Linked DNA regions of Homo sapiens. The protein of the gene in region 2 purifies or fractionates together with the protein of the main gene of each other region. This does not show direct contact. Each region holds a gene or a part of one and is shown on either strand. Other genes may lie near its edges. The genes, in order: AKR1A1, SNX3 and PPIL3.

Evidence for each region.
Region 1: the proteins of SNX3 (region 2) and AKR1A1 fractionate together in Homo sapiens (co-fractionation; 2 studies listed by BioGRID). This does not show direct contact.
Region 3: the proteins of SNX3 (region 2) and PPIL3 purify together in Homo sapiens (affinity purification with mass spectrometry; 2 studies listed by BioGRID and IntAct, with this or other methods). This does not show direct contact.

What each region holds. Positions count from the first base shown.
Region 1 is NC_000001.11:45,543,902-45,554,901, forward strand, and holds the start of AKR1A1 (aldo-keto reductase family 1 member A1), read left to right. Parts: upstream 1-6,924; 5' UTR 6,925-7,254; intron 7,255-8,534; exon of another isoform or gene 8,535-8,662; intron 8,663-11,000. UniProt on the Homo sapiens protein: Catalyzes the NADPH-dependent reduction of a wide variety of carbonyl-containing compounds to their corresponding alcohols.
Region 2 is NC_000006.12:108,256,465-108,267,094, forward strand, and holds the start of SNX3 (sorting nexin-3), read right to left. Parts: upstream 4,577-10,630; 5' UTR 4,458-4,576; coding exon 4,296-4,457; intron 1-4,295. UniProt on the Homo sapiens protein: Phosphoinositide-binding protein required for multivesicular body formation. Specifically binds phosphatidylinositol 3-phosphate (PtdIns(P3)).
Region 3 is NC_000002.12:200,870,370-200,880,729, forward strand, and holds the end of PPIL3 (peptidyl-prolyl cis-trans isomerase-like 3), read right to left. Parts: intron 6,669-10,360; coding exon 6,550-6,668; intron 1,153-6,549; coding exon 1,026-1,152; 3' UTR 538-1,025; downstream 1-537. UniProt on the Homo sapiens protein: PPIases accelerate the folding of proteins. It catalyzes the cis-trans isomerization of proline imidic peptide bonds in oligopeptides. May be involved in pre-mRNA splicing.

The DNA.
Region 1 (11,000 bases), on a different chromosome or scaffold from region 2:
ACTTTTAGCACAGAGCAGCCTCTGTGGGTGACATGTGCAACAGAAGACCGTAAAATTAGGAAATGCAGTTGACAGGGGAAATCCGCACCGCCATATGACAGGCTGTCTGCTTCCGTCAGCGGTTATTCCCTTGCCTGCCTGCCCTAGCCCACACCACTTCCTCCTCTTCCCCCCACCCCCGACTTTCCAGTCCCAGTCCATTGGTTTCAGTTGGCTGCAGCCTCCTTTCCACCACTTCACTGCAGCATTGATCTTTGTAACTGCCATAATAGAACTGATTCCTACCCTGATATAACTATAGCTTCTATGCCAACAGCTGTAGCTCTACATAATCATGTGTGTGCATGTACAGGTGTAAGTGTGCTTGCATGGGTGCATGAGTGTATATGTGCGCATGCATGAGAGAGAAAGAGACTGCAACCCTGTGCAGAGTCCTCCTCCTCTATTCTGGAGTTCTGTCTCTGTCAGGGATGGGTGGCAGTTTGTAGTAGTTTCACTTGAAGGGGTAGGAGAAGAGGGAACAGTTTTCCTATTTCAACCTAGCTTGCAGCAGCCTATTTTGAATATAAATAATAATCATTACCACTCATTAAATCTCTATGTACCACCAGGCACTTTACATCCATTGTTTCATTTAATCCCCAAACAACTCAAAAAAGTAAGCATGGCCAGCTTGGTGGCTCATGCCTATAACTGCAGCACTTTTGGGAGGCCAAGGTGGGAGGATCGCTTGAGCCCAGGAGTTTGAGATCACCTGGGCAAATATAGTAAGACCTCGTCTCTACAAAAAATAAACAAAATTAGCTGAGCACGGTGGTGGACAGTTGTAGTCCCAGCTACTTGGGAGGCTGAGGTGGGAGGATTGTTTGAGCCTGGGAAGTCAACACTGCAGTGAGCCGTGATCATGCCACTGCACTCTAGCCTAGATGATAGAGTAAGACTCTGTCTCAAAAAATAAATAACATATATTTAAGAAATTAAGAATTTTGCTTTGGTGCATAATCAGGAAAAAAGCAATAAATGGTTCTGAGGACCAAGTCACTCTGGTGGGATTGGGGATTGGAGCTCAGATCCCAAAAGATGAGGTAGCTGACTGCATAATGCAGTCCCCAGGGCCTGGTGCCAGCCTTGCTGGCTCTCAGCAGCCACTTGAATGGGACCACAGGATTTGAGGGGCCTGAGAGGGAGAATAATGCCTCAGTGCACAGGCCCAGGGCCATTTCCAGTAGCTACCTGTGTAGGGACTTTCACTACTTGGGGGAAATGAGTCAGGTCTTGTGAAGTTGGTTTCAGAGCTGGCCAGAGTTTAGGAATGATTCGGCCCTAATAGGGGATTAGAAGGAACTTAAATATGTTCCTTAAATGTGCGCTCATTACAATGTCACTAGAAGGTCCACGCATAAAGTCAAGATCTTGTTCAGGCCCCCTTATCGCCCTGCTTCGTATATGGGTCCTCTGGGAACCTGAACTCTGTTCTTCATTCTCATTCAGACAGCCTAGCCTACAGTAAGCAGGAAGTGCCAGCAAATAAGTCACTGGGGTAGCTCCGGGACAAACTCAGAGACTTGGACAGCAGGCATTTATTTCTTCATCTCTTCTACCTGGCCACATTCCTCTTAGGGTCTAGAAACCCCTGCCAAATGCTAAAACGTTCAGTGAGGGGTGCTGAGAACTTAACCTTTCCCTCCCTCCTGCCTAGTTGTCCAGAAAGGGATGCTCCCTTCTCCTTCCTAGACAGCCATTCTCACTTTCTAGCTCTTCATCTGTTTCAGCCTCCTCTGTCGCCACACAAGGCCAACCCTGCACACACACATAGGTATGCATTCTGCCTGTTCTACATTAGCCCCTCTGGACTGTGAACCTTGAAGGCAGAGAACAAGGCTGGTCCTTTTTTTTTTTTTAAATTTTTGTGATGAAATCTCACTCTGTCACTCAGACTGGAGTGCAGTGAACAATCTTGGCTCATTGCAACCTGCACCTCCTGGGTTCAAGCACTTCTCCTGAGTAGCTGGGATTACAGGTGCCTGCCATCACACCCGGCTAATTTTTGTATTTTTTGTTTGTTTGTTTTGATTTTTGTTTTTCCGTCGGATTTATTTCCTCACATTACAGCATACTTTTCATATGAGCCTACACATATCAGATGGTAACTCTGGAATGGGTGAGTCTGTGACACTGACCCAGCACAGCTGTGAGGGTGATGACAGGCAGGTTAGCAGGTGCGCACAGAGGGGCTTTCTTCTAAATTGGAGGTCAGGTTAGATGATTCAGCTCCGCAGAGCTCATTCAGTGCTCCGTCTTCTGGTGGCTTCCCTTGATTTCTAATAAAAGCTGCAGATGGAGTCACTCAGTTCCACATGGCTGGGGAAGCCTCAGCAAACTTACAATCAAGGTGGAAGGCACCTCTTCACAGGGTGGCAGGAAAGAGAATGAGTGCCTAATTTTTCTATTTTTAGTAGAGATGGGGTTCCACCATGTTGGCCAGTCTCGTCTCAAACTCCTAACCTCAAGTGATCTTCCCACCTTGGCTCCCAAAGTGCTGGGATTGCAGGTGTGAGCCACCGTGCCCGGCCAAGGCTGGTCCATTTTTGTGCCCAGTGAAAGGACTAGGACATAGTATATGCTAAGTAAATGTTAGCTAAATGTATGATCCATGATCCCCCCCACAATTATCCCATTATTTTTTTTCTTTTTCTTTTTCTTTTTTTTTTGAGACAAGAGTCTCGCTCTGTCACCCAGGCTGGAGTGCAGTGGCATGATCTTGACCCACTGCAACCTTCACCATCCAAGTTCAAGGGATTCTCATGCCTCAGCCTCCAAAGTAGCTGAGATTACAGGCGTGCACCACCATGCCCAGTTAATTTTTTGTATTTTTACTAGAGATGGGGTTTCACCATGTTGGCCAGGCAGATCTTAAACTCCTAATCTCAAGTGATCCACCCGTCTTGGCCTCCCAAAGTGCTGGGATTACAAGCTTGAGCCACCGCGCCCAGCTTCCCTCCATCATTTTCTCCACTTTCATATCTCCTGTCTCTTCCACTGGACCCTTCCCCGCTGCTTAGCACGTGGTCATGCTCGCATTTCCCACATAGTGAAAAACTCTCCCTCCATCTGCATCAAGTCACTATTAACCCATAACTTTTCTTCCTCTTACTTTTTTTTTTTTTTTTGAGACAGGGTCTCACTCAGTTGCCTAGGCTTTGTAGTGGTGGGTGCGATCACAGCTCACTGCAGCCTTGGCCTCCCAGGCTCAGGTGATCCTCCCACCTCAGCTTCCCAAGTAGCTGAGAACACAGGTGCATGCTACCATACCCAGCTAATTTTTGTATTTTTTGTAGAGATGGGATTTCACCATGTTGCCCAGGCTGATCTTGAGAACCCCTGGGTTCAAGTGATCTGCCTGCCTTGGCCTCCCAAAGTGCTGGGATTACAGGCATGAGCCACTGTCCCTGGCCTTTACTGTATCCTTGAGAAGTCCTTCCTCTGATTCTCCATGTCTTCATCTCCTGTTCATTCCTGAATTCAGGTCATCTGGCTCAGGATTAACCATTCCACTGAAGGAGCTCTCCACATTGGTCACCAATGATCTTCATGTCCACCAAATCCAAAAGTTTCTGCTGTGGATATCAGACAACATGAATATAAAGACTATGGTAAGTAGTGGATGCTCAATAAAGTGGTTGTTCTTATATTCTTATTTGCTCACTTCTGTTTTTTTGTTTTTTAAAAATTATTATTTATTTTTGAGATGGAGTCTTGCTCTGTCGCCCAGACTGGAGTGCAGTGGCACCATCTCGGCTCACTGCAACCTCTGCCTCCCAGGTTCAAGCAATTCTCCTGCCTCAGCCTCTCAAGTAGCTGGGATTACAGGCACCTGCCACCATGCCCAGCTAATTTTTGTATTTTTAGTATTGATGGGATTTCACCATGTTGGCCAGGCTGGCCTCGAACTCCTGACCTCAGGTGATTGGCCCGCCTCGGTCTCCCAAAGTCCTGGGATTACGGGTGTGAGCCACCACACCTGGCCTGTTTGTTTTTAGACAGGGTCCTTGGTAAAAAGAATTTGAGGGGAAAAAAAAAAAGAGACAAGGTTTTGCTCTGTTGTCTAGGCTGGAGTAGAATGGCACAATCATGACACACTACAGCCTCGAAGACCTGGGCTCCAGCAATCCTCCCACTTCAGTCTCCTAAACACCTGGGACTATAGGTGTGCACCACCGTGCCCAGCTAATTTTTATATTTTTTGTAGAGATGAGGTTTCACTATATTGCCCAGGCTGGTCTTGAACTACTAGGCTCAAGTGATCCTCCCTTCTTAGTCTTCCACAGTGCCGGGATTACAGCCATGAGCTACTGTGCCTGGCCTGTAGGTTCTTCTTTTACGTATTTTTTTTTTTTTGAGACGGAGACTTGCTCTGTCACCCAGGCTGGAGTGTAGTGGTGCGGCTCACTGCAACCTCTGCCTCCTGGGTTCAGGCGATTCTCCTCCCTCAACCTCCTGAGTAGCTGGGACTGCAGGCGCGTGCCACCATGCCCAGCTAATTTTTGTATTTTTAGTAAAGACGGGGTTTCACCATATTGGCCAGGCTGGTCTCGAACTCTTGACCTCGTGATCTGCCCGCCTTGTGCTGGGATTACAGGCGTGAGCTACTGCGCCCGGCCCCTTTTTTTTTGAGACAGAGTTTTGCTCTTGCTGCCCAGGCTAGAGTGCAATGGCACAATCTTGCCAAACGCAACCTCTGCCTCCTGGGTTCAAGTGATTCTTCTGCCTCAGCCTCCTGAGTAGCTGGGATTACAGGGATGTGCCACCTCACCTGGCTAATTTTGTATTTTTAGTAGAGATGGGGGTTCTCCATGTTGGTCAGGCTGGTCTCGAACTCCTCACCTCAGGTGATCTGCCTACCTCGGCCTCCCAAAGTGCTGGGATTACAGGCGTGAGCCACCATGCCTGGCCTATTTTATTTTTTTTTGAATACAGGCTGGAGTGCAGTGGCGCGATCTCAGCTCACTGCAACCTCCGCCTCCCTGGTTCAAGTGATTCTGTTGCCTCAGGCTCCCAAGTAGCTGGGATTACAGGCTCGCATCAATACATCCAGCTAATTTTTTTTTTTTTTTTTTTTTTTTTTTTTTTTTGAGGGGCAGTCTCGCTTTGTCAAGAGGCTAGAGTGCAGTGGCTCGATCTCGGCTCACTGAAACCTCCGCCTCCCGGGTTCAAGCGATTCTCCTGCCTCAGCGTCCTGAGTATCTGGGACTACAGGTGCGCGCCACGACGCCTAGCTGAATTTTTTTTTTTTTTTTTTTTGAGATGGAGTTTCACTCTTGTTGCCCAGGCTGGAGCGCAATGGCGCAATCTCAGCTCACCACAACCTCCGCCTCCCAGGTTCAAGCAATTCTCCTGCCTCAGCCTCCCGAGTAGCTGGGATTACAGGCATGTGCCACCACGCCCGGCTAATTTTGTATTTTTAATAGAGACGGGGATTCTCCATGTTGGTCAGGCTGGTCTCTAACTCCTGACCTCAGGTGATCCGCCTGCCTCGGCCTCCCAGAGTGCTGGAATTACAGGCGTGAGCCACCGCACCCGGCCAAGTCTGATTGTTTTTATGAGGATGGCCTGATACATTAGACATTTGGTCCACCAGGACATCACTTATGTTGGGGAGACAGTGGGGGATAACGGGGGTGGGGAAATGGGAAGAGTTGCTCTCAGGGAGTAAAGGTGTGGGGAAAAGCAGAGCCAAACCGAGATAACCCTGTGTCTTGCCCATCCCTGCCAAGGAAAACACATACATGCAAGACACCTCTCCACTCAAACAGCACAGACTATTTCAAATCGCAGATGTGTCATTTAATTAATACCTGTGTGACTTTGGGAAAATTATAAATAGCCTTAACCTTGCTGAGTCTGTCCAATCTGTAAAATGGATTATGAATACTTTCCTCACAGGCTTATGGTGTGCTGGTAATATCTTCCTCTGGATGGCAGTTACATTGCAAAAAATAATTTAAAAAAAAGAACTGTATACATTTAAGATTTATACATTTTCTTTCTTCCTGGATGTAGAATAGGAAAAAAAGAAAAAGAAAAAAAAAAAGACTGGTGTATTTTCTGTATATATGCTATACTACGATTTTTAAAAAGGCTTGTACGAAATAAAAGAATATTCCTTTTCGGCCAGGCGCAGTGGCTCACTCCTGTAATCCCAGCACTTTGGGAGTCCAGGGCGGGTGGATCACGAGGTCAGGAGTTCAAGACCAGCCTGGCCAAGATGGCGAAACCCCGTCTCTACTAAAAAATACAAAAAAATTAGCCAGGCGTGGTATCGGGCGCCTGTAATCCCAGCTACTCGGGAGGCTGAGGCAGAGAATTGCTTGAACCAGGGAGGCGGAGGTTGCAGTGAGCCAAGATCGCGCCACTGCACTCCAGCCTGGGCGAGAGCGAGATTCCGTCTCAAAAAAAAAAAAAAAAAAGGAATATTCCTTTTCCAGGATTATTATGAAGATTCAATAAAACCATGTTTATTAAGTGTTAAGCACAGTGCCTGGCACATAACGTGCTGGGCGGGGTCTATGGTCCAGACAGGGGGACCAGGCACTTTCCAGCGCCTGGATCTGCAGACGCGAGGTCTTCTGTATTCTGGCCAATCTTGGTGTTGCAGCTGCTCTCTGGGCCTCAGTTTGCTTGAACTAAATGTAACGGGGCCAACTTAGGTGAACTTTGGGAATCCAGCCAACCTGACTTTAGGGAGAGTATGGAGCCACGGATGGCATTGTGAATCCGGAGGGCCGACACCAGAAGAACCTGCAACGTGGCATCTGCTACCTTACTTCCCCCGGAAAAGCGCCTGCGGCGGCGCCTAGGCGCGCGGTGCAATGTGGGCCAGCAAAAGGCGAGGCTGGCCCCGCCCCTTGCACCGCCCACGTGGCCAGCGCCACCTGCCTCATTGTGCCCAGGAGTTCTCCAAACCCGCGCTGCGGAGTGAGTGACCAAGTTCCGGCCAGTTCGACCTCGAGGATCCAGAGGTGGAGACGGTACTACCTCCCAGCTCTGTTTTCCATCCCCTTCAGGTCCTTCCTCGGGAGGCGGCGAAGGCGGTCCACCCTGCGCGTGATCCTTTATGCCCGGCCCCTGCCCCTCCCTCCGGGTGGAACTTCCCCCTCACCGCCAGACTTAAGCTGAGGATCGTTGGATCTCTGGCGGGGTGCAGAACTGAGCCCAGGCCACAGTACCCTATTCACGCTCTGTGCTTGTGCCAAGGTGAGTTTCTCTTGCTGCTGGCCTATCTTTCTCCCGGAGGAGATGGCCTCGATTCTTTACTACTGAAATGTAAGCCCCTGGGGTTGAGTGGAGAGCGCAGAGCACTGGAGGGGACGAGACTTGGTTTCGGATTTGAGCTCTTCTTTTTCTCTGTATGATCTCTTGCTAACTTCCCAGTTTCTCTGAACCTGTTTCCTCAGCAATAAAATGAGGTCCTACATTAGAACTGTAGCAAGAATTGAGATAAAGCTTTGAAGGCGCACAGCGCATACTAGGTGATCTGCAAGTTTTAATTGCCATCTTTTTGTTTGCTCACCTATGTGCTTTTTCCAGCTGCTCCGGCTTTCTTATGCAGGTGCAGGGATAGTTCTCAGAAGTGGGGAGAAGTGGGGATAATTCTCTTACTTAGACACCTGCTTTGGGTCTGAGAAAGTCTGACATGTTATTCTGTTGCCCCAGAACTCTGTTAAAGTAAGACACAGATCTGAACCTTCACTGGATGAGGCTACTGTTAATTAACTCTTCCCCTTCAGATCGTTCATACTCAGGGCTGCAGGCCTGTTACTTTTCCAAGATCTGTTTCCTTATCTTTAATACAGGAGCAATCTCAGTATGATTCTATCTGGTCCACTGGGATTTTTTGCCGAGTATAGTAAAGTGCTTTGATATTCTCCAAGAGGATTCTTTTCAGGTTTTCCAACAGGTAAAGGAAGAAGGTGACAGAGGCAGCGACTTCCTCAAATGTCCTTCCAGCTGGCCAAACTCAACCTGTCAAGATCTCTCCCCCATAAGCTGTGTGTGTGTGGTGTGTGTATTGTGTACATTGTATGTATGTATGTATGTATGTATGTATGTATGTATGTATGGGACAGGTACTCTAGGAGTGAGGGGTTCAGGCAGATGACAGGCTCAGACCTCAAGGAGTAGCCAGGTTTGTGGGGGAAATTTATATATAAACAGAAAAATGTAGTGATGTGCACATGCTATCAGTACATGGAAGTAGCCATCCATTTATTTATTTATTTATTTTCTTTTTAGAGATGGATGGGGGTCTCTCGGTCTTTTGCCCATGCTGGAGTGTAGTGGTGGAATCCTTGCTCAGTGCAGCCTCAAACTTCTGGGCTCAAATAATCCTGCCACCTCAGCCTTTGGACTATAAACTACATGCCACTGTGCCCAGTTAATCTTTAAAATAAAAAAAAAAAAATTCCCCCTAGCAAGCAGACTCAGAAAGAAAAAAACAAATTTTTGTAGAGACAGTGTTTCCTTTTGTTGCCCAGGTTTCAAGTGATCCTCCCGCCTCAGCCTGCCCAGGTGCTGAGATTACATGTATGAGCCACTGCACCTGGAAAGGAGCCAGAAATGTGAAGTGCTAGCTGAAGGATGAGCAGCAGCTAGCCAGGCAAAGGTAGGGTTTGGGGAAGGAAAGTGCACACACCTAGAGTCAGGTAAGTGATGTGACCCTGTTGAGTGTTCAAAGTCTGGAATACAGTCTGACATGAGGAGGTGGTGAAATGAGAAAGATAGAAGCCAGGTTTTGAGAAGCCTGGACTTTATCCTGAATATAGGGGAGAATTGCTGGAAGGGTTTGAGACTGGGAGTCACATGGTTGGATCTGGTGATGGACTGCGGGAAGAGGGACCACTCTGGAAGCCAAGATCTGTGGTTTAAGTAAAGAGTGATGGTCAGCTGGGCACAGTGGCTCATGCCTGTAATCCCAGCACTTTGGGAGGCCAAGGTGGGTGGATCACCTGAGGTCAGGAGTTCGAGACCAGCCTGGCCAACATGGTGAAACCCTCTCCGTACTAAAAATACAAAAAGTAGCTGGGTGTGGTGGCACACACCTATAATCCCAGCTACTGGGGAGGCTGAGGCAGGAGAATCACTTGAACCCGGGAAGCAGAGATTGCAGTGAGCCGAGATCATGCCACTGCATTCCAGCCTGGGCAACAGAGTGAGACTCTGTCTCAAAAAAAAATTTAAAAAGGCTGGGCACAGTGGCTTATGCCTATAATACCAGCACTTCGGGAGGCTGAGGCGGGCAGATCACGAGGTCAAGAGATGGAGACCATCCTGGCCAACATGGTGAAACCCCGTCTCTACTAAAAATACAAAAATTAGCTGGGTGTGGTGGCATGCGCCTGTAGTCCCAACTACTGGGGAGGCTGAGGCAGGAGAATCGGTTGAACCTGGAAGGCGAAGGTTGTAGTGAGCCGAGATCACACCACTGTACTCCAGCCTGGCGACAGAGCGAGACTCTGTCTCAAAAAAAAAAGAGTGGTGGTGGTCAGAGATGGGGCAGTGGCAGTGGAGGTAGATATGGATGGACTAGAGAAAGATTTAGGAATATATATTTTAAAATTCTTTTCACATACATCAAGAAGTACAGGAAGCATTATTGCAATCTTAGGTCTTAGGTTACATATTAGAGCATTCTCTTTTTCTGTAGCTATTAAGTATTAACAAGATTTAAAACCCAGCTAAACTGACAAAATCTGGCCAACATTACATATGTAAGGTGATTTTCCAAGCTGGCTTTTCTAGAAGTATAGGAGAGGCCGGGTGTGGTGGCTCATGCCTGTAATCCCAGCACTTTGGGAGGCTGAGGTGGGCGGATCACGAGGTCAGGAGATCGAGACCATCCTGGTTAACATGGTGAAACCCTGTCTCTACTAAAAAATACAAAAAAATTAGCTGGGCATGGTAGCGGGCACCTGTAGTCCCAGCTACTCGGGAGGCTGAGGCAGGAGAATGGCATGAACCCGGGAGGCGGAGCTTGCAGTGAGCCGAGATCACGCCACTGCCCTCCAGCCTGGGTGACAGAGCGAGACTCCGTCTCAAAAAAAAAAAGAAGTATAGGAGAAAGCCAGGTGTGGTGGCTCACACCTGTAATCCCAGCACTTTAGGAGGCCAAGGTGGGAGGGTCACTTGAGGCTAGAAGTTTGAGGGGGCAACACAGTGAGACCCTATCTCTACAAAAGAAAAATAAGGCCAGGCATAGTGGCTCACACTTATAATCCCAGCACTTTGGGAGGCTGAGGCAGAAGGACCACTTGAGCCCAGGAGTTTCAGACCAGCCTGGGCAACAAGGAGAAACCCTGTCTCTACGAAAAACACAAAAAATGAGCTGGACATCGTGGCCCATGCTTCTAGTCCCAGCTACCTGGGAGGCTGAATGGAAAGGATAGCTTGAGCTTGGGAGGTGGAGTTTGCAGTGAGCTGAGATCACACCACTGCCCTCCAGCCTGGACGTTAGAGCGAGACTCTGTCTCAATAAATAAGTAAATAAATAAGCTGGGTGTGGTGACATGTGCCTGTAGTCCCAGCTACTCGGGATTGCTCCAGTCCAGGAGTTCGAAGCTGCAATGAGCCATGAATGGGCCACTGCACTCCAGCCTGGGCAACAGAGTGAGACCCTGTCTCAAAAAGAAAAGTACAGGAGAAAATACTCTCCTCACCAACTACTTATCAAAACCATAATCTGATAATACTCATAAATGCCTGCAAGGAACTACAAATACTTTCTTTAGATGGCTTTTATTTATTTATTTTTTAGACAGGGTTTCAGTCTGTGGCCCAAGCTGGAGTGCAGTGGTGTGATTTCAGCTCATTGCAACCTCTGCCCCCCAGGCTCAAGGGATCCTCCTGCCTCAGCCCCCTGAGTAGCTAGGACCATAGAGACACATCACTATGCCTGGCTAATTTTCATATTTTTTGTAGAGATTAAGTTTTGCCATGTCCCCCAG
Region 2 (10,630 bases):
ATTATGTGCCAGGCACTGTGCTAGAAAGATTCATGTGCCTTATCCCATTTAGTCCTAAGAGGTAGGTACTATTATTAGCACACCTATTTCACAGAGGGGAAGTGGAGCTTTGATTTTGTATCTTACCCAGCTAGGAAATGTTAAATCTATTCTTTGAACTGAGGACTATGTCAGAGCTCAAGAAAGATTCTAATTCCATTCCTGTTCAAAACAGTGGTCTCCAGGTAAAATAGATCTTGATTAACTTAAAAATCTCCAGAATATTAAAGTTATATTACAGCACAAACTTCATAAACAGTGACTGAATTTTGCTTTCAGCCTTCTCTTGAATATGCCTAAATAATTCCAGACCTTGAACTTTCCTAAACCTTTAATCATTTATGGTGCTCTCTGCTGTACCTACCCATTAGAACAATTTTTAAAAACATAACACTGTGTAATTATTTTCAAAAGCCCAGAGATACTAATCAAGTGATCCTAATAGTCTTAAACACTATCCTCAAACCAAAAGATAAATGGAGATTGGGAAACTTGCATTCTAAGTGCCACCATCCATATAAAATTGCCCTGTGAATTAGAGTAATTTCAATCAGATCCTGTAAAACTGTAAATTTTTCTCAAGACCAGAATGAGACAGTAACTGTAAGATAGTTTAAAAGCCCAAATTCTGGAACATAAAATGGTTTTCCACATAGCAAATTCAACAGCAAAAGGTAGTCAGTAGGGGTTCGGGAGAGCAGCAACATTTAGAAAATAATAAATAAAATTGCAGGGCTGGGTGAGGTGGCTCATGCCTGTAATTCCAACACTTTGGGAGACTGAGAGGGGGAGGGCCACTTGAGGCCAGGAGTTCAAGACCATCATGGGCAACATAGCAAGTCTCATCTGACAAAAAATAAAAAATTAGCCAGGTATAGTAGTACCCTGTAGTCCAGCTACTTGGGAGGCTGAGGCGGGGGGAATACTTGAGTCCTCGAGTTTGAGAATGCAGTGAGCCACAATCATGCCACTGTGTTCCAGCCTGGGCTACAGAACGAGACTCTTATCTCAAGAAGAAAAAAATTACAAAATATTAAACTATTCATGTCATAGCCACTCTGCCTTAATGCAAGACTATAATTACTCTAAAAAATCATATGCTGCTCAAATAAGGCCTAATTTCCTTACTATATGGTGTCCTTAGTTTTAAGTTAACACATTACATACTAAAAGAAATCCAGGCTGGGCATGGTGGCTCACGCCTGTAATCTCAGCACTTTGGGAGGCCAAGGTAGGCAGATCATGAGGTCAAGGGACTGAGACCATCCTGGTCAACATGGTGAAACCCCGTCTCCACTAAAAATACAAAAATTAGCTGGGCGTGGTGGCGCGTGCCTGTAGTCCCAGCTACTTGGGCGGCTGAGGCAGGAGAATCGCTTGAACTCGGAAGGCAGAGGTTGCAGTGAGCCAAGATCGCGCCACTGCACTCCAGCCTGGCGACAGAGCAAGGCTCTGTCTCAAAAAGAATAAAAATAAAAATAAAAAAAGAAAGAAATCCAAAGTCATTTCATGCATTAAAAACTCAATTAGGTTTTCACATAGGCACTGGCATTTATGACTGTTAACAGCTATTAACACCCAGTGAGTTGGTTTATACAAAAATACAAACCAAAGTAAGTGTATAATTTGTTAGTTCCCTGACTCATTAATCGTTCTTAAAAAAGATTATTTTCAGGCCAGGCGCGGTGGCTCATGCCTGTAATCCCAGCACTTTGGGAGGCCAAGGCAGGTGGATCACGAGGTCAGGAGTTCAAGACCAGCCTGACCAACACAGTGAAATCCCATCTCTACTAAAAATACAAAAATTAGCCAGGCGTGGTGGCGCATGCCTGTAATCCCAGCTACTCAGGAGGCTGAGGCAGGAGAATCACTTGAACCTGGGAGGCGGAGGTTGCTGTGAGCCAAAATAGCGCCGCTGCACTGCAGCCTGGGCAACAGAGCGAGACTCCGTCTCAAAAAAAAAAAAAAAAAATTTTCTTTAACATGTAAATGACTATACCAAAACCCTTTTTTCTCTCTCTCCTGAGATAGGGTCTCATTCTGTTATGCCGGCTTGAGTAGAGTGGCCTCATCATAGCTCTCTGCAGCCTCGACCTCCTGGGCTCAAGTGATCCTCCCACCTCAGCCTCTGGAGTAGCTGGGACCTCAGGGATGCGCGCCACCACGCCCAACTAATTTCTTTTTTTGTGGGGAAGGGGTTTCAACGTGTTGCCCAGGCTGGTCTCAAACTTCTGAGCTCAAGGGATCCACCTGCCTCAGCCTCCCAAAGTGCTGGGACTAGAGGCATGAGCCACTGCGCCAGGCCCAGAAACCATTTTTAAGTGTCACATCAGCTATTTGCTAAGGTATTAGGTGTATTAAAAAAAAAAGAGGATTAAATTATTATACTAGAACCCATTTAATATAATGCATTCAGCAAGATAAACTCAAAGTAAGTGGAGGAAGTGTAGGCAGGAGATTCCAATTCAGTTTTGTGACAGGAAGTACCTGCTATGGAAGTATAGAAACAAGAATACCAAGTTCTGTTTTAGCACAAGAAAGAAAAAAAAAGAAAATACTAGTGAATAGGGCAAAAGAGGAAGTTCTTTTTAGTGAACCATCTGTCATGTATTACAGACAATTAGAAAAACATTCACTTTTCCACTAGGTTTATGTATGAATGTAGTTCCCCAGGTGTACTGAAGTCTGGATTTTGCAGTTTCCCTATGACAACATATCCTATGATTCAATTTTTATTTATTTATTTAGAGAAGGGATTTTGCTCTTGTTGCCCAGGCTGGAGTGCAATGGCCCGATCTAGGCTCACGGCAACCTCTGCCTCCCCAGTTCAAGAGATTCTCCGGCCTCAGCCTCCCGAGTAGCTGGGATTACAGGCATGCGCCACCACACCCGGCTAATTTTGTATTTCTAGTAGAGATGGGGTTTCTCCATGCTGGTCAGGCTGGTGTCGAACTCCTGACCTCGGTGATCCGCCCAGCTCGGCCTCCCAAAGTGCTGGGATTACAGGCATGAGCCACCGCGCCCGGCCTATGATCCACATTTTACACATCCATAAGAAGACAACAGTGGCTTGAAACATTAAACTATTCGTTTCATATCTTAAAGTTTGATTAACTTTTTAAAATCAATGCTAACTACGTAAGAATCATTTTTTAAAAATACTTAAGTTTCACAACAATGTGAATATACTACTGAGCTGTATGTACACTTAAAAATGGTTAGGATGGTAAATTTGATTTTTGTGTTTTTCACGACACAAAGTGTGTAAGTTAATGAGAATTTTTTCACTTAAATGTTAATAGTAGCTTGTCATATAAATTTTGATTAAAGGAAAAATCGCTTTACACTTAACTTTTAATAATTTGCTGTCATCTTTAAATTAATGTAATTAATTTTTAAAGATGCTTCCATACATGGGCAAATTCTTTAATCCTGAATTATAGAGTGAAAGTGAAGCACTATTTTCAATTAACATCTTTCAAATCATCTAAATTATTGCCAACAAATACTAGTTATGAAATTAGGTATATTTTATTTCTGTTGATTTCTTTATTCAATTAAGTGCAAATCTCGAATTAAGAGAGCAAGATCCCTAGTCTTTTCTTAAAGCAACTGTAGTTCTGGATTATGAGGTAGGTGACACCACACCTCAGCCTTTGGCAGGGCGGTGGCCCAAAATGCTGAAGTCAACCATGTCCAATCACCCTTCTGGTCTGGCTCAGCCCTATCAAAAATTGTCAGGCTTCTGTGAACTTTCATTAAGTCCCGTTCAGAAGACTGCACAACCCAGGTTACTTTAGCAGCTCGGGAAGGGCCTGGAGCAGCCGGGTTGGCTTGCTACCTCTGGGAAGTCTCCAGGAAGAGAAAACTGGGAAAAGGCTTTAACTTTGCGCAAGCCCCTTTTCTCTGTCAACATCTCTTTCCCTTCCCAGCGAAGGGATGTGTTCTCGAAAGATCTACCCCTTTCCAACTCAAATGTCATTCCCTGATCAGCTGCTGGAGGGGCAAGCGGCGCTCAACCCACGCCCTCCTCTTCGAGCACCTTCTCCAAGTGCCAGCGCGCCGGGCTCGCTCTGCAGCCCCCCACACCAGCCCTACAGGAAGAGGGGCCCTGGCTCACGACCCCGGCCCGCCTCTGCAAGGGGGCTCCCGGCCTGGGAGGCTGTGGCTGCCCGCGGGGGTCCACTCCCGGGTCGAGTGGGGGTGACCAGAGCCAGCGGGAGGGGTTTCTTGGGAGAGGGGAGAGACGGCCTCACCTTGACCCTGATTTCGTAAGTGGTGAAGCGGCCCCGGCCGACCCCCACCGTTTGCGGGTTGCTCACATCGATCTCGAGGAAGTTGCTGGGGGGTCCGTAGGCGTCATTCAGGTTCTGCGGCTTGGTGATCAGCCGCCGGGTGTCAGCCACGGTCTCCGCCATTTCGCTGTAGCTGCTGCCGCCGCCGCGGGCTCCCTCCGCCCCCTCCGCGTTCAGCCGCCGCCGCCGCCGCTGCTGCCCGCCGTGGGGACACGGGGCTCGCGCGCAGCGGTCGCGAAGAGAACGAGCACGTAGAGCGGGCGTTCACCCCGCACGCGAAGCTCCTCCCCGCGCCCCTCAAGCTTCCGCCTCCGAGCCCAGGGGAGAAACGGCTCACTAGCTGGAACGCCACGCCCGGCTCCCGGGAGGCCCGGCCGAGGCTGGGGAGGGGCACTGCGGACTGGGGTGTGAGGAGAAGCGGTGTCATGGGACTCGGGGTCGCAAACAGGTTCCGGCCGGACTACAGCGCCCACAATGCACCGCGAGCGCGCCGCCGCGGGGCTGCGGCCGAGGAGGCGAGGACCCAGACGCCCAGAGCTGGCGCTTCCTGTCTCTCTGCGCCAGCCTCGGCCTGCGGCGGGGTAGAGCGCCGGAAACGGCTTTAGCGGCTTTGGGAATTGCGGGCGAAAGTTAAACGGAGAGATCTTAGAGATTTGCCCGCAAATCGAAACAAAACTGCCCCTACTAACTCTGTGCCAACCTGTGCACCGTCTCACTGTGAACCCCTGAAAATGCCTTTCTGGAGAAGGTTAAGCAAATGCCTGAGATGATTTTGCCATAAACCCGAGCGTTGCACCAGACACGCGTCTGGATTGATAGGTTGAAACCAGTAAAGTGGGGGAGTGAAATAAAAACTAAAGCCCTAGTTAAATCCTAGCATTATGGTCAAATCGATTTTGGAGACAGGTCGGTCCGCTAAAACAAAGTAACAGTAGACCGGCTGCAAGCTGCTTTGGGTGTCCACTTTCGTTTCTCACGAAGTCCTGATAAGTTTTTTTTTTTTTTGAAAAGTATTAAACGTACCTCTACAGGACTGGAAATGCAACTCACATGAGCCTTTTTAAGAAACGGGGAGGAAGGCCGGGCACGGTGGCTTATGCCTGTAATCCCAGCACTTTGGGAGGCCGAGGCGGGCGGATCACGAGGTCAGGAGTTCGATACTAGCCTTGCCCACATGGTGAAACCCCATCTCTACTTAAAAATGCAAAATTAGCTGGGCGTGGTGGTGCGCGCCTGTAATCCCAGCTACTCTGGAGGCTGAGGCAGGAGAATCGCTTGAACCCGGGAGGCAGAGGTTGCAGTGAGCTGAGATCTGCCATTGCACTCCAGCCTGGGTAATAGAGTGAGACTTTGTCTCAAAAAAAAGAAAGAAAGAAACGGGGAGAAAACCCAATTAATTAGGTCCTAGTTCATCTCTTATGGTCCAATGGGAAATGCAGATTTTAAATGTTGAGATACGATACATTTCTATCTCTGCCCAGAGAGTTATCCCTCACAACTATTTCTGCATTTTTTAATATGTCAAGTTTAACACTATAATTACTTTAAATAACCTGATCTTCCCCGCCCCCCTTTTCTTTAGATTTTAAATTATTAGTAATTATTTGTGGAGACGGGATCTCACTGTGATTCCCAGGCTGGTCTCCAACTCCCAGCATCAAAGTGATCCTCCCGCCGTGGCCTCCCATATGTGCTGAGATGACAGGTATGAACCACCGTGCTTGGACTGATCTGTCCCTTGAACTGCAAATTTCTTTTCTTTCTTGCTTTTTTTTTTTTTTTTTTTTTTTTTTTTTTTTTGAGACGGAGTCTCGCTGTGTCGTTCAGGCTGGAGTGCAGTGGCGCATCTTGTCTTACTGCAATCTCCACCTTTCGGATTCAAGCGATTCTCCTGCCTCAGCCTCCCGAGTAGCTGGGATTACAGGCGTGCGCCATGACACCCAGCTAATTTTTGTGTATTTTCAGTAGAAACGGGGTTTTGCCTTATTGGCCGGGCTGGTCTCGAACTCCTAACCTCAGCTGATCCGCTCGCCTCAGCCTCCCAAAGTGCTGGGAGTACAGAAGTGAGCCACCGTGCCCGGCCAACAGCAACCATTCTTAATAACACTAAGAAACACTGGAATAAAAAGAAATTACTTGGCCGGGTGCGGTGGCTTGCGCCTGTAATCCCAGTACTCTGGGAGGCCGAGGCGGGCGGATCACCTCAGGTTGGGAGTTTGAGACCAGCCTGACCAACATGGAGAAACCCCGTCTGTACTAAAAATACAAAATTAGCCGAGCGTGATGGCGCATGCCTGTAATCCCAGCTACTCGGGAGGCTGAGGCAGGAGAATTGCTTGAACCTGGGAGGCGGAGATTGTGGTGAGCCGAGATCGTGCCATTGCACTCCAGCCTGGGCAACAAGAGCAAAACTCCATCTCAAAAAAAAAAAAAAAAAAAAAGGCATTACTTAAATACAATGTATATTATTTTCCAGAAAACAACATTCATTTATTAATTCAACAAATATTTGTTGAAGACCTACTAGATGTTTTCATTCTAAGTACTAGAAATGAAAGGGTAGATAAGTCAGGTTTATAGCCTAGTATATAGTCTGTCTTAGGGAGACAATTCAGTAAATAATACACCTGCCAATATAATTGGTGCTATGAGGCAAATAAAACTGAATAATGTGACAGATAGTGACAGACAAGCTCATTAGATATTAATGCTGGGCATGTCTCCTAATGCAACAGACCAAATGGGAATTTGACTGGTATGATTAGAAATGTAAGCTCAATAAATACATATCAATGACTCTGAATTGAAGTCTATGCAAGCTAAGAGACCAGGAACTACTGTATTATGTTGTCATCGGTGACACCTGAACAAAGCAATCATGGAATATTCTCATAGAATGCTTCTGTCTGATTCCTTGGCGACCACTCAGGGCAGCAGTGGGCAGCCAGAACAAATGCCTGCAGTGGGGAAGCGGCTAGGAGGGACAGCAGCACAGCATCATAGCACAGTTGTATAGCCAAAGAAGACCTTCTTGGTGTAAATATCAGGAAAAAAAATTATCCTTATTTTTCAGGAATTGTGATTGCATTTCTAGAATACAAATCCAGAAATAATAAGCTACTAGAATTAACAAGAGAATGTAGTGGCAAGACAGAAATAAAGAATGTAATAGCTTTCCTTTGTCTATGCAATATCTAGTTAGAATGGAAATGGAAGAAAATACCCTGTTTGCAAGTGACCAGAAGTACAAAATATCTAGGAAGGAAGGGATAGGAACTATAAGGAGCAAAGGGAACATAGGACTAAAACTATGAAATTGTATTCAAAGATGTAAGACAAAACCTAAAGAGAAAAGAGTCTATGTTCCTGGATGGGAGGACTTAATATCAGAAAAAGTCACTATCTAAAATTAATAACTTAATACAATTAGAATCTCAATGTGGTTAGTTTTACTCACCCACTCCCACCTTGGATGAGTGGGTGGCACTGAGTCAAGTTTTTTTTTTTTTTTTTTTTTGAGACAGAGTCTCACTCTGTCACCCAGGCTGGAGTGCAGTGGCACAATCTCGGCTCACTGCAACCTCTGCCTCCAGGGTTCAAGCTATTCTCCTGCCTCAGCCTCCCAAGTAGCTGGGACTACTGGCGCCTGCCACCACGCCCGGCTAATTTTTGTGTTTTTAGTAGAGACGGGGTTTCACCATGTTGGCCGGGCTGGTCTCGAATTCCTGACCTTGTGATCCGCCCACCTAGGCCCCCCCAAAGTGCTGGGATTACAGGGGTGAGCCACCGCACCTGGCCCAAAGGTTTTATCATTCAGAAATGGCAAAACTAGGCTGGGCGCGGGTGCACGCCTGTAATCCCAACACTTTGGGAGGCCGAGATGGGCGGATCATCTGAGGTCAGAAGTTTGAGACAATCCTGGCCAACATGGTGAAACCCCGTCTCTACTAAAAATACAAAAAAATAGCTGGGCGTGGTGCCGGGCGCCTGTAATCCCAGCTACTCGGGAGGCTGAGGCAGGAGAATGGCTTGAACCTGGGAGGCAGAGGTTGCAGCTGAGCCGAGATTGCGCCACTGCACTCCAGCCTGGGTGACAAGAGCGAGATTCTGTCTCAAAAAAAAAAAAAAAAAAGGCAAAACTAGCTCCAGAGTTTATATACTTACCAATATTTTACGCTGCCTCTTAGGCAGAAAATTCAGATGGACAATAAGCATAAAAAAGAAATGAAATTACTATCAGCTGACTGTTTAGTGCGCTCAGAATAAAGACGAATTGATAATCTTAATGGCCAGAGCCTTCAAATTGTGATAATTAATACTCTACTCAAATGACACACCTCTCAGGGCACCCACAGCAATACCAGTATACAGACAATGTATTTTTCTAGAATTAGGCCACTTTAGGAAAACATAAAATTGATGATAGTTTTCTAACATTTTAGCTTATCCTTAGAATATGTTCATGTCTTCTCCTCCTACCTCCACTTCAACTGCCACTATACTCAAACTCACTAATCATATAAATGCACATTAAACATGAAATACTTTTTTCTGTCTATCAAAATGGCAAAAATCCAAATGAACAGAAACACACAGTAGGAAAGTAGGAAAACAGGCATTCATATTTCAATGACATGAGTATGAATTTTTACATCTTTTTGGAAAAGTAATTTGATAATATTTATCAAAAGTAAGACTATTAGAGTAGTTTCACCTGCAAATCTTAACTTTTGCTGCAAGAGACCATGGTACATAAGGTTGTAAGGGCAAGGATGTTTATTGCATCTTTGTTTGTAGTGGCAAAAACTGGAAACAGCTCCAAGGCTTATCAATTTTTTAAAAAGCTTGAATTAGGCTGGGCAATGGCTCATACCTGTAATCCCAGCACTTTCGGAGGCCAGGTCAGGCAGATCAGTTGTCAAGACCAACATAGGGAGACCCCATCTCTACAAAAAATTTAAAAATTGCAGGGCATGCTGGTGTGTGCCTATAGTCCCAACTACTTGGGAAGCTGAGGTGAGAGGATTGCTTGAGCCCAAGAGGTTGAGGCTGCAGTGAACTATGATCATGCCACTCTACTCCAGCCTAGGTAACAGACAAGGACCTTGTCTCAAGAAAGAAAAAAAGAAAAAAAAAAAAAAAGAAAATGCTTGAATTATAGTATGTTTAAAGTGTGGGAAATTGTATAATGATTAGAGTAAATGAACTAGTTATATTTTCATTTATTAGAATACTCTATTATTTAGTTATTAGAATTAGAGGAGGACTATCCATGATGTATTGGTGAAAGCACAGAATCCTAGCCACTAGACTACCAGAGACCATGATATTGGTAAGTGAGGATCACAAAATAATCTGTCTGCTATAGTCCATTTGGGTAAACAAATAAAACCGTATCAGTAGGCTAGCCACAGTGGCTCATGCCTGTAATCCCAGCACTTTAGGAGGCTGAGGCAGGTGGATCATTTGAGGTCAGGAGTTCGGGACCAGCCTGGCCAACATGGTGAAACCCAGTCTCCACTAAAAATACAAAAAAATTAGCTGGGCATCGTGGCGCATGCCTGTAATCCCAGCTGCTAGGGATGCTGAGGCAAGAGAATTGCTGAACCCAGGAGACAGAGGTTGCAGTGAGCCGAGATCACGCCACTGCACTCCAGCCTGAGTGACAGAGTGAGACTCTGTCTCAAAACAAACAAAAAAACCCACCCTATCAGTGACTATATGTACATTTATATTTGTATATGTTTATATGTGCATGGGGAGAAGGAAGTATAGAAGGATATACGCCAGGGTGTTAGTGCTGGTAGCTTAAGAGGGTGGCAATTAAAGTGGAGGTAGGAGGAGAAGACATGAACATATTCTAAGGATGAGGTAAAATGTCAGAAAACTATCATCAATTTTATGTTTTCCTTAATGGCCTAATTCTAAAAAAAATAAGTTGTCTGTGTACTGGTATTGCTGTGGGCAACCTGAGAGGTGTGTCCCTTGAGTAGAATATTAATTATCACAGATTGAAGGCTCTGGCCATTAAGATTATCCATTCCTTAGCTGGGCATGGTGGCACATGCCTGTAATCCCAGCTACTTGGGAGGCTGAGGCAGGAGAATCACTTGAACCCACGAGGTGGAGGTTGCAGTAAGCTGAGATCGCGCCATTGCACTCCAGCCTGAGCAACAAGAGCAAAACTCCGTCTCAAAAAAAAAAAAAAAAAAATTATCCACTCCTGGCTGAGCATGGTGGCTCATGCCTGTAATCCCAGCACTTTGGGAGGCCAGGGTGGGCAGATAACTTGAGAT
Region 3 (10,360 bases), on a different chromosome or scaffold from region 2:
AGGCGTCAGCCACCACACTCGGCCTCCAGGACCTCTGAGAGCCTTTACTGTAAACCTAAAGATCACACCTGTAATCCCAGCACTTTGGGAGGCCGAGGTGGGCAGATCATGAGGTCAAAAGATCAAGACCATCCTGGCCAACATGGTCTCTGTAAACCCCGTCTCTACTGAAAAAAAAAATACAAAAAGTAGCTGGGCATGGTGGTGTGCACCTGTAGTCCCAGCTACTTGGGAGGCTGAGGCAGGAGAATCACTTGAACCTGGGAGGCAGGGGTTGCAGTGACCCGCTGCACTCCAGCCCGGGTAAAAGAGCAAGACTCCGTCTCAAAAAGAAAAAAAAAAAAATCAGAGAAAATAGCAAATGGATTGGCTGGCCTTTCCAGACTAACTTTTTATCCTGTCCCTCCTCTTTCTAACTGTATAAAGTGAATAATTAATGGTAGAGCTCTTACCGTTAGTATCAGTTTCAGGAATACCCAAATTTTCAGATTTGGGGATACTTGCATATACATAATAAGATATCTTGGAGATGAGACCCAAATTTAAACATGAAGTTCATTTACGTTTCATATATACCTTATACACATAGCCTGAAGGTAATTTTACACAATATTTTAATTAATTTGTCCTACGATTTAATTCTTTAAAACTTTTTAAATTTTATTATAAAATAACACTTCCAGGATACGGACTTGCTGTGGGAGGAATATGTAATCAGGCCACTCAAAAATGCCTGCACTTGAGGCTGAGCATTTAAAAATGAATGTTCATATGTAACAAAAATTAAATGATGTATTTTTTGTATTAAAATTAAAGAAATATGTTGGATAATCATTATAATAAAGAATATGCTCTAAGAATGGGGATAAAAGCTGTTGGGCGCCCCTTGGTACCACCATTTCATAGAAGATCATAGTTGTAAACAAGCAGAAGGATGATGCAATCTCTGACATAATTAAAACCGGGTAAACCACAATAAGTGTGTTCCAGCAATTTGTCAAGTTATTTGTCCAGGTCTATCATAGCTACTGAGCAAATGGGTTGGCATGAATAGTTATGTCCTTAATGTGTACATCATTAAGAGGTCGGTATGTCTTCTCATTTACTGGCAACTTCTCCAACTCATCTAGAGTTTCCAGACCATCTATTACCCTGAAAGAGAAACAACATAACATATGAAAATTTCCTTAAATTGAAACATGATATCCATATCTATGACAATTACAGTCTCCTTAAAAAATAATCAAGTCTTACAGATCTCTGAGTTCTCTAGTTGAATGTACAACAAAATGTTGATTTTCCATCATAGATATGGATCAAAATTCAGAAATAATTTACTTTTATGCCCTTAGTCAACAATACAAAGGGTAGGAATATTTCCACCATAGTACCTAAAATTATATTCTACCCCATTCATACAGTGACAGAGAACAGCTACAAATGGGACTAATATAACCAGTTAAAGGGAAAACAAACTGTTTTTCTACACTTTCATACTTCCAACACCAAATGTGTGGGTTTTCCCAGTTCTCCAATTCTCTGGGTATCCCACAACTTGATTATTTTTTCAAAATTTTATTTAATTTTTTAAAGACAGGATCTCACTGGGACTACAAATGCATGCCCCCACACCTGGCCCTATAATTTAATTGTGACACTAACTACAAGGAGTGAACAGAGACCCCGGTTAATCCCACAAGACAGCCCCTACCACTTCGGATGCCAGTTCCAAGTCCCGATTGTGATCTGTACTATCTGACTAACCATGATATAATTTGGGATTTTTCATGCCCCCCAGCTCTGTTCAATAATTTTCAAAAATGGCTCATAGAACTTAGGAAAGCACTTTATTTATTACTATGGGCTATTATAAAGGTTACAACTCAGGAACAACCAAATGGAGGAGATGCATAGGGCAAAGTCTGAGAGAGGGGCACAGCGCTTCCATGCTCTTCTCGGGGTGTGTTACCCTCTTAGTATCTACTTGTGTTCACCAACCTGGAAGCTCTCAAACCCTGTTTAGGGTTTTTACGGAGGGCACATTAGGTAGGCACGATTAATTAAATCACTGGCCACTAGTGACTGGAACTCAATCTCCAGCCCTTCTCTCCTTCCCAGAGGTCAAGAATAGGAGGTCACTGAATGTTCCACCCCTCTAAAAATACATGGCTGATTCCTCTGGCAACCAGCCCTCCATACTGAAGCTATCTAGAACCCCACCAAGAGTCACCTCATTAGCATAAACTCAGGTATGGTTGAATGGGGTTTATTATGAACAATAAAATATTCCTTTCACTCCTGTCACTCAGGAAATTGCAAGGTTTTTAAAAGAACTATGCTGGAAACCACGGATGAAGTCCAAATATGTATGTCTTATTACAACACACTAGTCATAAAGATTTCTTTGCTACAGGAAATACATGGAGAAAGTATGTAGATGACACTATTAGCAATACTGCCCTACAATGAGAGTCCTAAAGTAGGTGACCACTCCACTTTGTACTTGTTTTTTTTTTTTTTGAGATGAAGTCTCGCTCTGGTCCCCCAGACTGGAGTGCAATGGTGTGATCTCGGCTCACTGCAACCTCTCCTCCTGGGTTCAAGCAATTCTCCTGCCTCAGCCTCCCAAGTAGCTGGGATTATAGGAGCCTACCACCACGCCTGGCTAATTTTTGTATTTTTAGTAGAGACGGAGTTTCAGCATGTTGGCCAGGCTGGTCTGGCCTGACCTCAGGTGATCCGCCCGCCTTGGCCTCCCAAAGTGTTGGGATTCAGGCATGAGCCACCAAGCCCAGCAGTTAATTGTTTAATTATAGTATTTCTTTCTTTTTTTTTTTTTTTGAGATGGAGTCTCACTTCCATTGCCCAGGTTGGAGTGCAGTAGCACTATCTCGACTCATTGTAGCCTCTTCCTTCAGGTTCAAGCAATTCTGCATCAGCCTCCCAAGCAGCTGGGACTACAGGCACATGCCCCCATGCCCAGCTAATTTTTGTGTTTTTAGTAGAGATGGGATTTCACCACATTGGCCAGGCTGGTCTCAAACTCTTGACCTCAAGTGATCTGCCCACGTCAGCCTCCCAAAGTGCTGGGGTTATAGGCATGAGCCACCACGTCTGGCCTAATTATGGCATTTCTACTTTTTGCTTCTGGATAACAACAAGAAGTAATAAAAATAGGAGAAGAGAAGACTGACAGTTAACAGCCTCCAGCAATCCCACTTCATGTTACCACCAAGAAAAAATATATTGAGAGCTATTCTTCAAATACAAGTTTTGGAAATTTCAGTCTAAAACATTTGCTAAGAAAGAGTGGCTTTTGATCTCTTGACCTCGTGATCTGCCCGCCTTGGCCTCCCAAAGTGCTAGGATTACAAGCGTGAGTCACTGCACCTGGTCATCTGACTGCATTTTGACTGCAACCCGTCACATGAGGTCAGATGTGGAATTTTCTACTTGTGGCATCATGTCAGTGCTCAAAAAGTTCCTAATTTTTAATTTTCAGATTAGGGATTCTCAACCACTGGTATGTACTTTAAAAAATTAACAGATTTGTAGGCCTGGCGCAGTGGCTCACGCCTGTAATCTCAGCACTTTGGGAGGCCAAGGCGGGCGGATCACGAGGTCGGGAGATTGAGACCATCCTGGCTAACATGGTGAAACCCCGTCTCTACTAAAAATACAAAAAATTAGCCGGGCGCGGTGGCGGGCGCCTGTAGTCCCAGCTACTTGGGAGGCTGAGGCAGGAGAATGGCGTGAACCCAGGAGGGTGAGCTTGCAGTGAGCTGAGATGGCGCCACTGCATTCCAGCCTGGGCGACAGAGTGAGACTCTGTCTCAAAAAAAAAAAAAAAAAAAAATTAGCAGATTTGCATTTTATTTTGCATTTTCACAAAATGGGTACTTCAACCAAAACATTTTGATTTTACCCCTAAATATAGACATTTAAGTCTTTAAATTATAAGTCTTAAAGGCTATCCCACCTTCTAGGTCAGTAAGAGAAACAGAGGAGGTAGAAAACATAGGTCTCAGGTAAAAAGTTAAAAAAACCCAGCAGGTAGAACTGAGGCAGTTAAGTAGAGTCAAGTATATGGGAAACGGACCCCTTGGAGAACTAGAGGAAAGTTACTGGATCATCTTCCCAGAAAAATGTGTGTGCATCTGTATACAACAAACAAGGAATTAATGAACCTAAGGTTAATCTTTGTTCTAAACTCTACAGTTTTGTCGCAAATCCAGTAAAATGAGTCCTGGTAATAACTGAACAATAATTTTGAATGATGTTGGTTAAGGGAGAAAATAAGAGGGAAACTGGGTTATTTACAAACATAAAAAAACTACTAGATGTTGTAATATTTCTTTTCTCCTTGATTATTATTAATGTGTAAATTAGATACATGTATATGGAATGAAAAAGAAAAGATCTGTCTAGATCTCACTGCAGCCTTGACACCCTGAGCCCAGCAATCCTCTCACTTCAGCCTCCCAAGTAGCTGGGACCATAGGTGTGAGCCACCACACCTGGATAATTTTTAAATTTTTTTGTAGAGACGGGGTTTCACTATGTTACCTAGACTGGGAGTCCTCTATTTTTAATTAACCTAATTTGGCATCCAAACTATTAAATAGAACAAACTCTAGAATTGTGCCTTGGTTTATTAAGCATGATAATTATTTGTTGAACGAACAGACAAATTGACTTCCCACTGATTTATAAAAGCAACTCCCAGACATAGTACTCTTAATAGATACCCTGGCAGAAACTGTGAAATACCTTCCTAGGAGCCATTCTTCTTACTCGGAGAAATCTAATTTTAGTAAGGGTGGCAATGTGGCTGAAATACATTTTCTACCCTCCATTGTAGGTAAGGAGTGGTCACATTACTAAGTTCTGGGTCTTCTGGGAAAGTTTTTTTTTTTTGAGACGGAGTCTCGCTTTGTCACCAGGCTGGAGTGCAGTGGCGCAATCTTGGCTCACTGCAATCTCCACCTCCAGGGTTCAAGCCATTCTCCTGCCTCAGCTTCCTGAGTAGCTGGAATTACAGGCACGCACCACCGCACCCAGCTAATTTTTGTATTTTTAGTAGAGATGGGGTTTCACCATGTTGGCCTGGATGGTCTTGATCTCCTGACCTCATGATCTGCCCTCCTTGGCCTCCCAAAGTGCTGGGATTACAGGTGTGAGCCACCGCACCCGGCTTTTCTTTTTTTCTATCTTTTTTTTTTTAGAGATAGGGTATCATTGTTGCCCAGGCTGGAGTACAGAAGTGTGATCTCAGCTCATGCAGCCTGGAACTCCTGGGCTCAAGTGATTCTCCCACCTCAGCCTCCTGAGTAGTTGGGATTACAGGTGTGTGTCACCACACTTGGCTAATTTTTAAATTTTTTTTATAGAGATGGGTTCTGCTATGTTCCACAGGCTGGTCTTGAACTCCTGGCCTCAAGTGATCCTCCTGTCTCAGCCTCCCAAAGCACTGGGATTACAGGCCTGGGAAAGTTCTGTTAATTAAAAAAGGTGAATCAGCTGGCAAGCACCTTTTGTCTTTCCTCCCCTTTCCTCCCTGATACACAGAAGTTTTGATAAGAGCTGTGCTGCCAATATTATGACAGAGGCGCCTAGAACACTGGTAACAAAATGGAACCACCATGCCAGTCCATCTTGTTTAAGCCACTATTTTTCAGATCTGTTAGTTGCTGTGAAATGCTATCATTAATGAAAATGGACCAGCCTGGGCAACATAGTGAGACCATGTCTCTAAAAAAAAAGTGTTTTTTTTGTTTTTTTTTTTTTTAAAGTAGCTGCGCATGATGGTACACATTTGTGGTTCCAGTTACTCAAGAGGCTGAGGTGAGAAGATCACTTGAGACCAGGAGGTTGAGGCTGCAATGAGCCATGACTGTGCTACTGCACCATACTCCAGCCTGGCGACAGAGCCTTTCGTCTCAAAAAAAGAAAAAGAAAAAGAAAATAGATATACTATGTTAATTTGCATAACAATATTGAAAAATTACTGGCCTCTTTTACAAAATAAGGAAAATAAAGCTCAGGGAGATTATAACTTTCCCAAGGTCACAGGGTTGCTAAGTGGTAGACTTAAACTCCAGGTACGTTTAGCTCTCACACCACTCTTCTTTTCTTTCTTTTCTTTTCATTTTTTTTTTTTTTTTTTGAGGCAGAGTCTCACTCTGTCGCCCAGGCTGGAGTGCAATGGCATGATCACGGCTCACTGTAACTTCCGCCTCCCAGGTTCAAGCAATTCTCCTGCTTCAGCCTCCTGAGTAGCTGGGACTACAGGTGTGTGCCACCACATCCAACTAATTTTTTAAAATATTTTTAGTAGAGACAGGGGTTCTGCCACATTGGCCAGGCTGGTCTCGAACTCCTGACCTCAGACAATCTGCCCACCTTGGCCTCCCAAAGTGCTGGGATTACAGGTGTGAGGCACTGCGCTCGGCCTCACTCTTTTCAATATTAGTTATGCTACTGTCACAGCTAAGCATATGCACCACTTGCATTGAAATGCTAAAAGAAAACCATAACCAGAATACTCACTTTCCAAATACGGTGTATTTCATGTCCAAATGTGGCTGTTTGCCATAGGTGATGAAGAACTGAGATCCATTGGTGTTCGGGCCATTATTAGCCATAGATACAACACCTCTAACATTGTGCTGAAAAAGACACATCAAAGTATTAACTGTGTTTTTATATAACCATCCCAAATATAGTATTGAAACAAGACAGGCACACCTTTGTTTTCTTTTTTAAAAATATTTTGAGATTGGGGTCTCACTATGTTGCTCAGGCTGGTCTCTAACTCCTAGGCTCAAGTGATCCTCCTGCCTTAGCTTCCAAAGTGTTGGGATTACAGGTGTGAATCAGCACACCCAGCCAAGACATTCAATCTTTACCTTCACAATATTTAAGGGAGCAAGAAAACATTTAACCAACTTCTCTCTATTAGGGATAATCCAAATGTTCAGTTTCTGCCTTTTCTGTACCTTTGAAAACTTGTATGTAAAAGGTTAATATATCAAATAATATTTCTCAATTAATTTCATTTTCACTTTGAAGAAATACAGCCATGGACACTTTTTGCAATACCAACAAATAATAGAAATAATCCTTACATTTATATTAAGGAATAGTGTGCTGGAATGAAATGATCAGGCAGGCAACAAAACCAAAATGCCCACAATCTCTTCTCACATACAATGGACTCTTGCTAGTTTCTTTATCTGTAAAACAAGGGAGGCTGGACTAGTTCAAGGGTCTATTTATAACTCAGATGCTCACAAGGGTCAAGCAGATAAACTGACAATTGGGCAGAATGTAAACATTAGAGAGAGATGAAGTCTGGCAAAATGAATAGGCTATCTCTTGATTAATGACATTAAATATATATTTTTTAACTAAGGGCCACAGATAATGCATCTGTGGGTGTTCCACTCATGGGCAGTCAGTTTATAACCCCAGGACTGAACGATCTAAGAAAGGTCTCACCTAGCTCTACTATCATGATAGTATTTGTTTACAAGAGACAGTGTATAGAAATTAAAAGGACCTTACTGATAAGAATGAAGATGTAACTGTGAACTATGTTACAGGGAGGTGCCTGTAATACACTACAACTCCACCAATTACTCTAGCTTTAGCTATTCATTGGGTGACGCTAATAAGTCATAGAGAAGCACCTATATCAAAATATTAATGCTTGTCTCCCTAAAAGGTGTCCACCAATCAAATGTAATATTAAATACACATGTAATATTTAATACATACACAATATTTAATACATACACAAAAATATAGTTAATAAAAATGTAAGTTAATAAAATAAGCACCCATTAACATATTTCCCAGCTTTCAGAGTTAAAATTTACCAATTCATTGAATAATGGGAGCTCAAGAAAAAATAAAAGTTACCAATTAATTACATATATCCATGTGCTCCTCTCCATTTATTACCTCAGCCTCTACAAGAGGTAACCACTATTCTAATACCTTTTTTTTTTCATTTTTTCATTTTTTTTTTTTTTTAGAGACAGGGTCTCACTCTGTCACCCAGGTTAGAGTGCAGTGGTGCAATCATAGCTCACTGTAGCCTTGACCTCCTAGGCTTGAGCAATCCTTCCACCTTGGCCTCCTGAGTAGCTGAGACTACAGATGTACACCTCCATACCTGGCTAATTTTTTAACTTTTAGTAGAGATGAGGGCTCAATATGTTGCTCAGGCTGATCTCAAACTCCTGGCCTCAAGTACTTGTTCCTCTCACCTCGGCCCCCTAAAGTGCTGGGATTATAAGAGTGAGCCACTGTGCCCAGCCCTAACACATTTACACATGCCTAAACAACACATTCTTTCCTTTTCCTTCTGAATATAATTACATCGTAACATTTTAGTCTTCTGGGAAATGCTTTCTACAAATAACATTGTTACATTTCTAAGGTTATACATGTACATATAGCCATAGTTTATTACTATTTTTTTACTACTATGTGATATTTCACTACTGAATATACTACAATTTATCCACAATCTACATAGTGATTCATCTACAATCAGTGGACATTTGGGTTGTTTCTAGACTTTTGCTATTACAAACAGTACATCAGAACACTCCTGTACATGTCTCTTGGTGCAAACTTACAAGTTTCTCTTGAGTAAACATTTGGGAATGGAATTCCTGGGCCAGAATATATGAAGAGTCAATACATATCCACAATCTTGGTGTATAAGGTGTATAATATAATGGTTCTTTTTTTTTTTTAGACGGAGTCTCGCTCTGTCGCCCAGACTGGAGTGCAGCAGCACGATCTCGGCTCACTGCAAGCACTGCCTCCCGGGTTCAGGCCATTCTCCTGCCTCAGCCTCCCAAGTAGCTGGGACTACAGGCACCCACCACCACACCTGGCTAATTTTTTGTATTTTTTGGCAGAGACGGGGTTTCACTGTGTTAGCCAGCATGGTCTTGATCTCCTGCCCTCGTGATCCGCCCGCCTCGGCCTCCCAAAGTGCTGGGATTACAGGTGTGAGCCACCGCGCCCGGCCTATATAATGGTTCTTAACTCTGCCTGCAAAAGAATCATCTAGGAACCTTAAAATATAGTCTAAGTCCTAACCAGCCCTACTGACTTTATTTTTAGGAGGGCAAGGCCATGATCTGTTATAGTTTTAAAACTTCCAGCCAAGTGCAGTGGCTCACTCCTATAATCCCAACACTTTGGGAGGCCAAGACAGGAGGATCATCTTAGTCCAGGAGTTTCAGACCAGACTGGGCAACAGAGCAAGACCTCGTCTCTACAAAAAATCAGAAATTAGCTGGGCACGGTGGTGCACTCCTGTGGTCCAGCCACTTGAGAGGCTGAGGCAGGAGAAACTGCTTGAGCTCAGGTCAAGGCTGCAGTGAACCGTGATCAGGCCACTGCACTCAGCTTAGGCAACAGAGTGAGACCCAGTCTCAAAAACAAACAACAAAGTTCCACAGGTGATTCTGTCATAGCCAGTCTCTGGTTTTCAGCTGGTATATGGAAGCAGTCATTAATGTAATAATTAATACCTAAAAAATTGTTTAGTTATTCATTCAGGAAAAAGTTGACTTTTCAAAAAGTTTATCACCTCCCAGCCTCAACTCCTGTAACAAAACTAATACATTTCCTTACAATAGAAAAGTAAAATGAACCAGCTTGGGCAACATAGTGAGACACCATCTGTACAAAAAATACAAACATTAGCCAGGCATGGTGACATGCACCTGTAGTCCCAGCTACTCTGGAGGCTGAGGTGGGAGGATCACCTGAGCCCAGAAAATTTAGTCTGCAGTGAGCCAAGAATGCATCACTGCACTCCAGCCCAGGGGACAGAACAAGACCCTGTCTCTAAAAAAAGGTTTTAAAAAAAGCAAAAAGAAAAGAAATTACTCCTAGTCTCATCATCCAGAGATAAACACTGCAATGAATTTTTTTCAGAATTTTTGTGGGTACATTTTAATGTAATGGAAATATAATAATACACTTAAACTGCATATTTTGATTGAGTAGACTTTTTTTTTTTTTTGAGTGGGGTCTCGTTCTGTGCATGATCTTGGCTCACTGCAGCCTTGATCTCCTGGGCTCAAGCAATCCTCCCACTTCAGCCTCTTGAGTAGCTGGGACTACAGGCACACGCCACTATAACAGGCTAATATTTGTATTTTTTTGTGGAGATGGGGGTCTCACTATGTTGCCCAGGCTGGTTTCAAACTCTTGGCCTCAAGCAATCCTCCTTACTGGGCTTCTCAAAGTGCTGGGATTACTGTACCCGGCCCTGGTTGAGGATACTTCATTGCTCTTTTTCTAATCATAAAGTTATCATTCTATGGAG